2 linked regions of the Homo sapiens genome follow. The protein of the gene in region 1 interacts with the protein of each later gene in a pairwise test. Each region holds a gene or a part of one and is shown on either strand. Other genes may lie near its edges.

Region 1 (3,725 bases):
TTATGAAACGTCACTAAATACCCAAGGACATCAATTTAACAGAAAAAATCAGGATGATTTAATAACAGAGGAAAAATTCAAGGTTGGATTAAGGATAGGAATGACAAAGGAGACTTAAATTGTATTCAAGGATGAAAATAAGGGTCTACTTTGAAAGAGAAGTGGACAGATGAGCATTCAATAAAGGAAGAGAGGGCAACAGGGAAGAATTACAAATTTCTTCACAACTTGGTACTACTAATTTCTCAAATTACTTTTAACCAGGCCAGTCTAAAAGTTGCAAATACAGCCCAGTTTGCTGTGCTGAATCTTGACTGAAATGTTAGTATGTGTGTATAGACTTATGTGTATTATTGGTACTTCATTAGATACTCATTTAATTCTCAGTAGTGGTACAAACCAATCCTGATGGAACATCTCAAGTTAGATTTCAAGGTCCTAGTTTGACTCGGAATGGAAGGAAATATGTGACAGCTGCCATTTAGTCAGCACATGGAAAATGTTTTCATTTTCTGGCTGCAAAAACTTGTGTGTTTTTACACCTCCCCTTCCACCAGCACCTCAAATAACTGTGACACTAAAAAAGTAGATATAATACTAAGAATAACCACTTAACCCACTCAACAGTTTCTTACATCAGATTTTATTATACTGAAATACAAGCTACATTTTTACAAAATAGAAATTCTTTGTGAGTGGATTGACTTAATTTTATTTCTGTATAAGCTAAATATGTTGATCTGTTTTATGAACATGTATTTTATAAAAATGGTCACAATATATTTTTTAAGTTAACTGATTTATTGAGGGAGGAGGAGAGAGTTGACCAAAGTCTACATGCATAGACAGTCCTAAAAGCGTATCTCAAACATGAAGATGTAAATTTGAGAGTTAATGATACAAATTTCAGCAAAAACATTTTACAGGCAGAGAGTGTTTTGGTGTTTATAAAAGCTGAACTCCTTTTGAAGGGCTTTTGTACAAATACACATGCTCATATACTATATGCATATATAGGTGTACTTCATTTTGAGAAAGTCCAGTATAATACTAGCATCAAATTTACAAAACAGGTTTAGTGTTGACTGACTGAAGAACTCACTACAGGTTTTACTTCAACTGCTTACATTCAAAAGTATTCAATTTACAAATTTTAGGTACTTACTGTGTAAGGTAAGTACATCTATACATAAATACTTTTATGCAGGTATAATATAAACATAGCAAATAGCTGAGGCTATTTTCTAAGGTGTTTGGCTTAGTGAACCTTTTTTACATCTTTATAGTTTTAAAGTCAAATACATAGCAGTCTTTATTTGGGTGTATGTTATCACAGAGGAATAAAAATCAGTAATGGGACTGGGAACAGTATACCCACTAAGTTAAATTAAGTCATTGGTTAAAACACCAAATTATTCAAAACCATTTAAGAGATATGCCCCACTAAATTCCCTCTGAATTTAGTCATTTACAGATGTTGTGTTTCGTATTCCTGTTCTCACCTTTGTGCCTGCTCCTTTGCAAACATTCTTTTCACACCAAATTCTTAGAACTGAATCAGAACTGCAGAAAATCCAACACCTTTTCTCTCCTCTGCACATGGCTACAAAAATTCTAATAGTAACAAGATAGTGTGAAAGACATACCTCTATATACTTTTTACTAGCATTGCATTTGCAAACTTACTTGAAATTACTTTTTTAAAAAAACAGGATTTCTATGGCGTCCTGTCCTTCAGGGTTCCTTCTAAGGTATGAATTGCTAAGAATTTTCTTTTCAGCTGCCTATATTTCATCAGCCTTGATAATTAATCATCTTTTATACTAAATTTGCCATATACTGACAAAGTCAAAGACCTGTAATAAACTAGACAAGCAAAAACTTTCTCTTAGCGGGACTAATGCTGTTAAAGGCAAATGGTTTCCTTTCCATTAAAACCATATTCCTGCCTGTTAAGTTACTGAGGTAACTCCAAAAAATTAAGCAGTAAAAAAGATCTCCATGGGATGTGCCCTAACACAAATTCTACTCGGCCTACTCAACCAGCACCGTAATTTTTAACATTCACTTAGCACCTATGGGTAATTAAACAGGCATCATCGGAGAATATTCCAGTTGCTAAATGGTACCCCATTATTAATTAGTACTATGCCATGGCTCTCTCTGAGTATTTCTCTGCTCAGTTCTAGTAATATCTTAGCAGTGATAAAAGTGTTTTGCCCAAATAGTTATTCTCATTTTGTTTCACTTTGATTGAAACAAACATTTGATTTTCTTTCATCATGTGCTGTCATACGGTGATATGGATTCAATAACTTAATCATAATGACCCCCCAAGATTAAGAAGAAAAAAAGCATCATTCAGCATCTCTCCTCTACCTTTTAATTTCTGTGTTAAGAGGGAAACAAAACCTTCAAAGGAGCAAGCCAAGTAGCTTTTCCTCTTCTCTAAACTTTACTGGAAATAAGGCATTAGAGGTGATTAGTGCTAATCTCACTTCTGTTCTCTCCTTTACTCCTTGACATCACTGTGTTCTACATGCAGTCCTCCAGGTCACCTGCTTCAAAACCATCAGTTCATTCAAAACAAAGATTTACTGGACCCTCTCTCAAAGGTACTGATTCAAAATCTCAGGAGGAAAGTAATGAAGGTCTACATTTTTAAAAATAAGCTTCCCAAGTGAAGGTTACTCACCAATAAGCTTAAGAACCACTACCCTATATATCATACAAAATAGCTGCCCAATGTTATAATTTTAGTTGTCCGATATCAGAATGTCAGCAGAGGATTAGGGCAAATCAGCTAAGCATGGTGGCTCACGCCTGTAATCCCAGCACTTTGGGAAGCCAAGGCAAGAGGATTACTTGAGGCCAGGAGTTAAGAGAGCAGCCCGGGCAACACAGCAAGACCCTGTCTCTACAAAAAAAATTTAAAAATTAGCTTAGTGCACTAGTAGTGCAGTCCCAGCTACCTGAGAGGCTGAGGCAGGAGGATCACTTGACTCCAGGAGTTGGAGGTTACAGTGAGCTATTGTGTGCCTGGACAGCAGAGCAAAACCCTGTCTCTTAAAAAAAAAAAAAAAAAAAAGATTAGGATAAATAAGTTTTAAGAGAGAGTCTATCACCAACGATCTGAGTGAGTTACATTAAAAACCTGTATGAAGAAAAAAGTATATGAGATGACAGCACTCTGGAAAAAGTGCATCTGTAAAACCAAACGTTTGGACTACATAGTATTTAAGATCCATTCCAGCTCCAAAATCCTGACTTCGTTTTTGTCTCCTCATACTGACAGTGGATGAAATGCAAATACATGTTTGCATTCCAGGGAATAAGAGGTTCCAAAGCTACCTCTAGTCTTGTCAGATGGCCCATAAAAACATGCTCTGTTGATCTGATTTTAACAACTCTAAAATAAAATCCTATGCTACACATATTCCTAAGTCCCTGTTCACAACCGGTCATTCTCCAATCTTGCCTTGGTACTTATTCTGCTGTAACTGTACTTATATTCCAGAACAAGAAATAGCTTTGCTAAACAAAGATTAGACTAACATATGCTATTACCTATAGTTTAATGTGTTAAGGAATAAACGGCAGACATAAGTTGAGTATTCAGGCTGAGGGCTTCTTTCCACCACCACAAGCTAAGCTCCATGAAGGCAGGGAATTTTGTTTACCTAGTACCTAGCACCTAGCTCAGTGTCTGATGCGTATTTGGCAAT
Region 2 (3,751 bases), on another chromosome or scaffold:
AGAAAATAAGGCGTTTAGGTTTTAGGTCAGGTGTGAGTTGAAGAGGTTTTAAGTTCTTGAGAACACAGGCTAAGGGAGAAGAAGGGGGAATGGAGGGTGGAAGGTTGCCCATAGTGAAGGAGGCAAGCCCAGAGAAAAGAAGGTAGAGACCCGGAGAAGGGGGGTGGTGAGCAGCCCTGGGCTGCAATGTGGCTGAGCAGCCAAAGCAGGCGACCCACAATTGACTTGCCACCAAGGGAATGTGGGTGAATGACCAAGGCAGGCATCCCCACGGTGATCAGACACCAATGAAATGTACGTGAATAATCAGGCAGGTGTCCCTGCAGTGATTAAACACCAAGGGACGACTGTTTTCCTGAGTCCGTGACCGGAGCTGGAGTTTTGGGTCCATGGATAAAATATGTCTCCTTTGTCTCTACTAGAGAGGAGAAAGAACTGGAATTGGAAATAGAGGGAGATTTAAGGGTAGTGAGAGAGGCTGGAGAAGACAGTGAAAAGACCGCTTACCCGATTTGAAATTGGTGAGATGTTCCTTGGGCTGTTTGGTCTGAGGACCCGAGGTCATAGGTGGATCTCCTCACAGAGTGAGGGTGAGGACAGGGGACTGGTCTCCTGAAGGAGTCCTCCTGTCCCGGGTCTTCGGCACCAAATGTCACACGTGTCCGTGTGAAGAGACCACCAAAAGGCTTTGCGTGAGCAATAAAGCTGTTTATTTCACCTGGGTGCAGGTGGGCCGAGTACGAAAAAAAGAGTCAGCAAAGGGAGTTAGGGGTGTGGTAGCTTTATAGGATTTGTGTGGGTAGTGGAAAATTACAGTCAAAGGGGGTTGTTCTCTGGTGGGCAAGGCGGGGGCCGGGGGGGTGGAAGGTCTACAAAGTGCTCAGTGGGGGAGCTTCTGAGCCAGGAGAAGGAATTTCACAAGGTAATGTCATCAGTTAAGGCAGGAACCAGCCATTTTCACTACCTTTGTGATTCCTCAGTTGCTTCAGGCCATCTGGATGTATACATGCAGGCTTGGGCTCAGAGGCCTGACACAAGTTGGCACATTTGATCCTATCAACTTTAGTTTGCACTTTCACTTTTGATTTAAGAACATACTTTCTGTTTCTCAGAGGGCAGCCTCTGATGGGAATTTTAATACTCACAAGCATCAGTGGCTATATGATTGAATGTACTTCTTCAGTGTGAGTAAGTGACAACTTTCTGTAGCATGATATCCCTTATGGACACGATCCCCATTCAAAACGTTTTAAAACTATTTTATTGGGGACATTTATTAGCATGTTAAAACTCTTTTACAACCTATTAGAGCATATGCATAGAACATAAAATGTACACTGCCAAGAACAAATTTAAGGATAGGAAGAAAAGCTTACATTTTTTAAAAAGTATAAATTGAAATGTATGCAGTGTAATTTAAATTTGATTACGTTAACCTCCATTTCATCAGGACCACGTGTCGCGTTTTAACAAGAGTTTCCCTATCATGTCCAGGCTTTGGCTCTGGTTGCAGGCGCTGGGTAGGCACTTTTACGAGGAGGGACCTGGCACGATGGCACCACAAATTCCCAAGTGTGTCACCTCTGGGCGAACTTGGGCCTGTCCACTCGGCCCTGCGCGGTGGCCAGGGGCTCACCCTCTCGCACCGGGCGTCCCTCTGCGCGCAGCTTCTCTCGCCCCCCCGCGCCAGACCCGGGCGAATGGCAGCACCGTGGGACCCTGCCTTGACCGCCCCCGCCCTTCGGCGGCCTCTCCCAGCAGCCGGCAGGCTCTTGGGCGCGCCAACAGAGGGGCGCGGCTGCGGCTGTAGTCGCAGCCAGTTCCCGTTCCGGGCCCGCGAGGCAGCCGCCCCGGTCCTGCCCCTCCCTCGCGCTACTGCGGGAGCAGCGTCCTCCCGGGCCACGGCGCTTCCCGGCCCCGGCGTCCCCGGACCATGGCGCTCTCCGGGCTCTTCTCTAGCTCTCAGCGGCTGCGAAGTCTGTAAACCTGGTGGCCAAGTAAGTCCCAGCGACTGGGGATTCGCGCGGGGCAGGCCCTTTCTGAGGTCCTGGGCGCTGCGAGTGAGGAGGCGCAGGGAGGCGGGATTTGCGTGCGGGCGGAACGCAGCGCGGCTCTGGAGGAGCTCTGGGTGGAACCAAGCGGAGAAACCCGCGAGTTTGAAGCATGTAGCGAAAGTTGAGAGGGATGAACTTCACAGTCAGCGGAATCGTTTATCCCACTGTGGTCGAACGCAGGGGTTCTCAATCGTGCCAGCAGCTTAGAACCACCTGGGGAGCTTTTAAAATCCAGATATCCAGGCTGCACCCTAGATCAATTCCATCAGAATCTCACGGAGTCAGACCCAGGCCTCCGTATCTTTTAAAAGCTCCCCAAGTGATTCCAGTGTGCAGCCAGCGTTCGAGGGTTTGTGGCAAAGGCTGGAAGGGCAGACAGGGGCCTTCATGGAGTCCCGCCTGCAGACGGGACAGCAGCTCCCAGTGTCCTGCTTGGTCCTGGAGAGAGGGTGAGAACTTCCCTTGGGTTTCATGCTCCACAAAGTAAGGAAATGAGACAATGCTTGGCAAGGTCGCCTGAATATCACATTCAAAAACGCCTCCAATGTGTGCAGTTGTTTTGGCACATTGTGAAAAACATAGGAAATGACAGAGGTTGATGTCTCATTAGCTCTGCATTCTAGGAAACATTTCGGTTGTTGGTGTTTGAAATTAAGTCTGGGGAAGCTAAGCTAGTAAACCCATGGCCTTGATGACTTCTGGCCTTTCTGCTTTAAGGGTGAAGCCAGGGCCGGGCGCGGTGGCTCACGCCTGTAATCCCAGCACTTTGGGAGGCCAAGGCAGGCGGATCACCTGAGGTCGAGAGTTCGAGACCAGCCTGGCCCAACATGGTGAAACCGTCTCTACTAAAAAAAAAAAAAAAAAAAATTAACCGGGCGTGGTGGCGCATGCCTGTAATCCCAGCTACTCGGGAGGCTGAAGCAGGAGAATTGCTTGAACCCGGGAGGCAGAGGTTGCAGTGAGCCGAGATCGCCCTGTTGCGCTCCAGCCTGGGCAACAAGAGCAAAACTCCGTCAAAAACAAACAAACAAACAAAAAACAAAAAAACGGTGAAGCCAGAAGTCGTGCTTGCCAAAGGGTCGAGTTTGTTCTCCCTCAAAGCCCCTGTTGAAGATTGAACTATCACTTTCAGGGAAGAGTAAAAGAGTAACTCCACGATGCATCTTAGAGAGGAGTGGATTCCCTGTTCTCACCCAGGCTTAGATGCCAGGGGCCAGGTAGCTGAAATCCAGGCAAACCAGGCATTGACAAAGTACAGACTTCTACCGAATATGCCAGACAGATAAGCAAGCTGTGTTTAAAACAAACAGCAGAGTGGTAGAAGAGGGCTCTTTCAAATATTGTAAGAAGAGTAGGTTTTATTTTTGTGGAGTGGAGAAATAAGTTCACGCTTTGGAACCCATCAAATCTGGGTCAAAACTCGGATTCTGTCACTTCTATGCTGTGACTTTGGGCAAGTTCCTTGACCTCTCCAAGCCCCTGTTTTCCCACCTGTAAAATAAAGAGCAACCCTCTCCTGAGGCTAGCATAGTTCAGCGAGATGATGTGCATCACACACCTGGAAGGTGGTGGCGCTGGCAGGTGCTCTGGCAGAGGTAGTTATTAGACACTGGAGTGGCAGTTTGTGCCCGTTAATTGTTTACTTAGTACAGCCACTATGAGGGAGAATGTCTATAAAATGTTCCCTTCAACGCTCC

The links. Proteins that work in one complex are often made in the same cells at the same time.
Region 2: the proteins of SUGT1 (region 1) and NOD1 interact in binary tests that used the Homo sapiens proteins (3 or more experiments, as listed by UniProt).

What each region holds. Positions count from the first base shown.
Region 1 is NC_000013.11:52,697,812-52,701,536, reverse strand, and holds the end of SUGT1 (protein SGT1 homolog), read right to left. Parts: 3' UTR 628-3,725; downstream 1-627. UniProt on the Homo sapiens protein: May play a role in ubiquitination and subsequent proteasomal degradation of target proteins.
Region 2 is NC_000007.14:30,476,852-30,480,602, reverse strand, and holds the start of NOD1 (nucleotide-binding oligomerization domain-containing protein 1), read left to right. Parts: upstream 1-1,818; 5' UTR 1,819-1,997; intron 1,998-3,751. UniProt on the Homo sapiens protein: Pattern recognition receptor (PRR) that detects bacterial peptidoglycan fragments and other danger signals and thus participates in both innate and adaptive immune responses.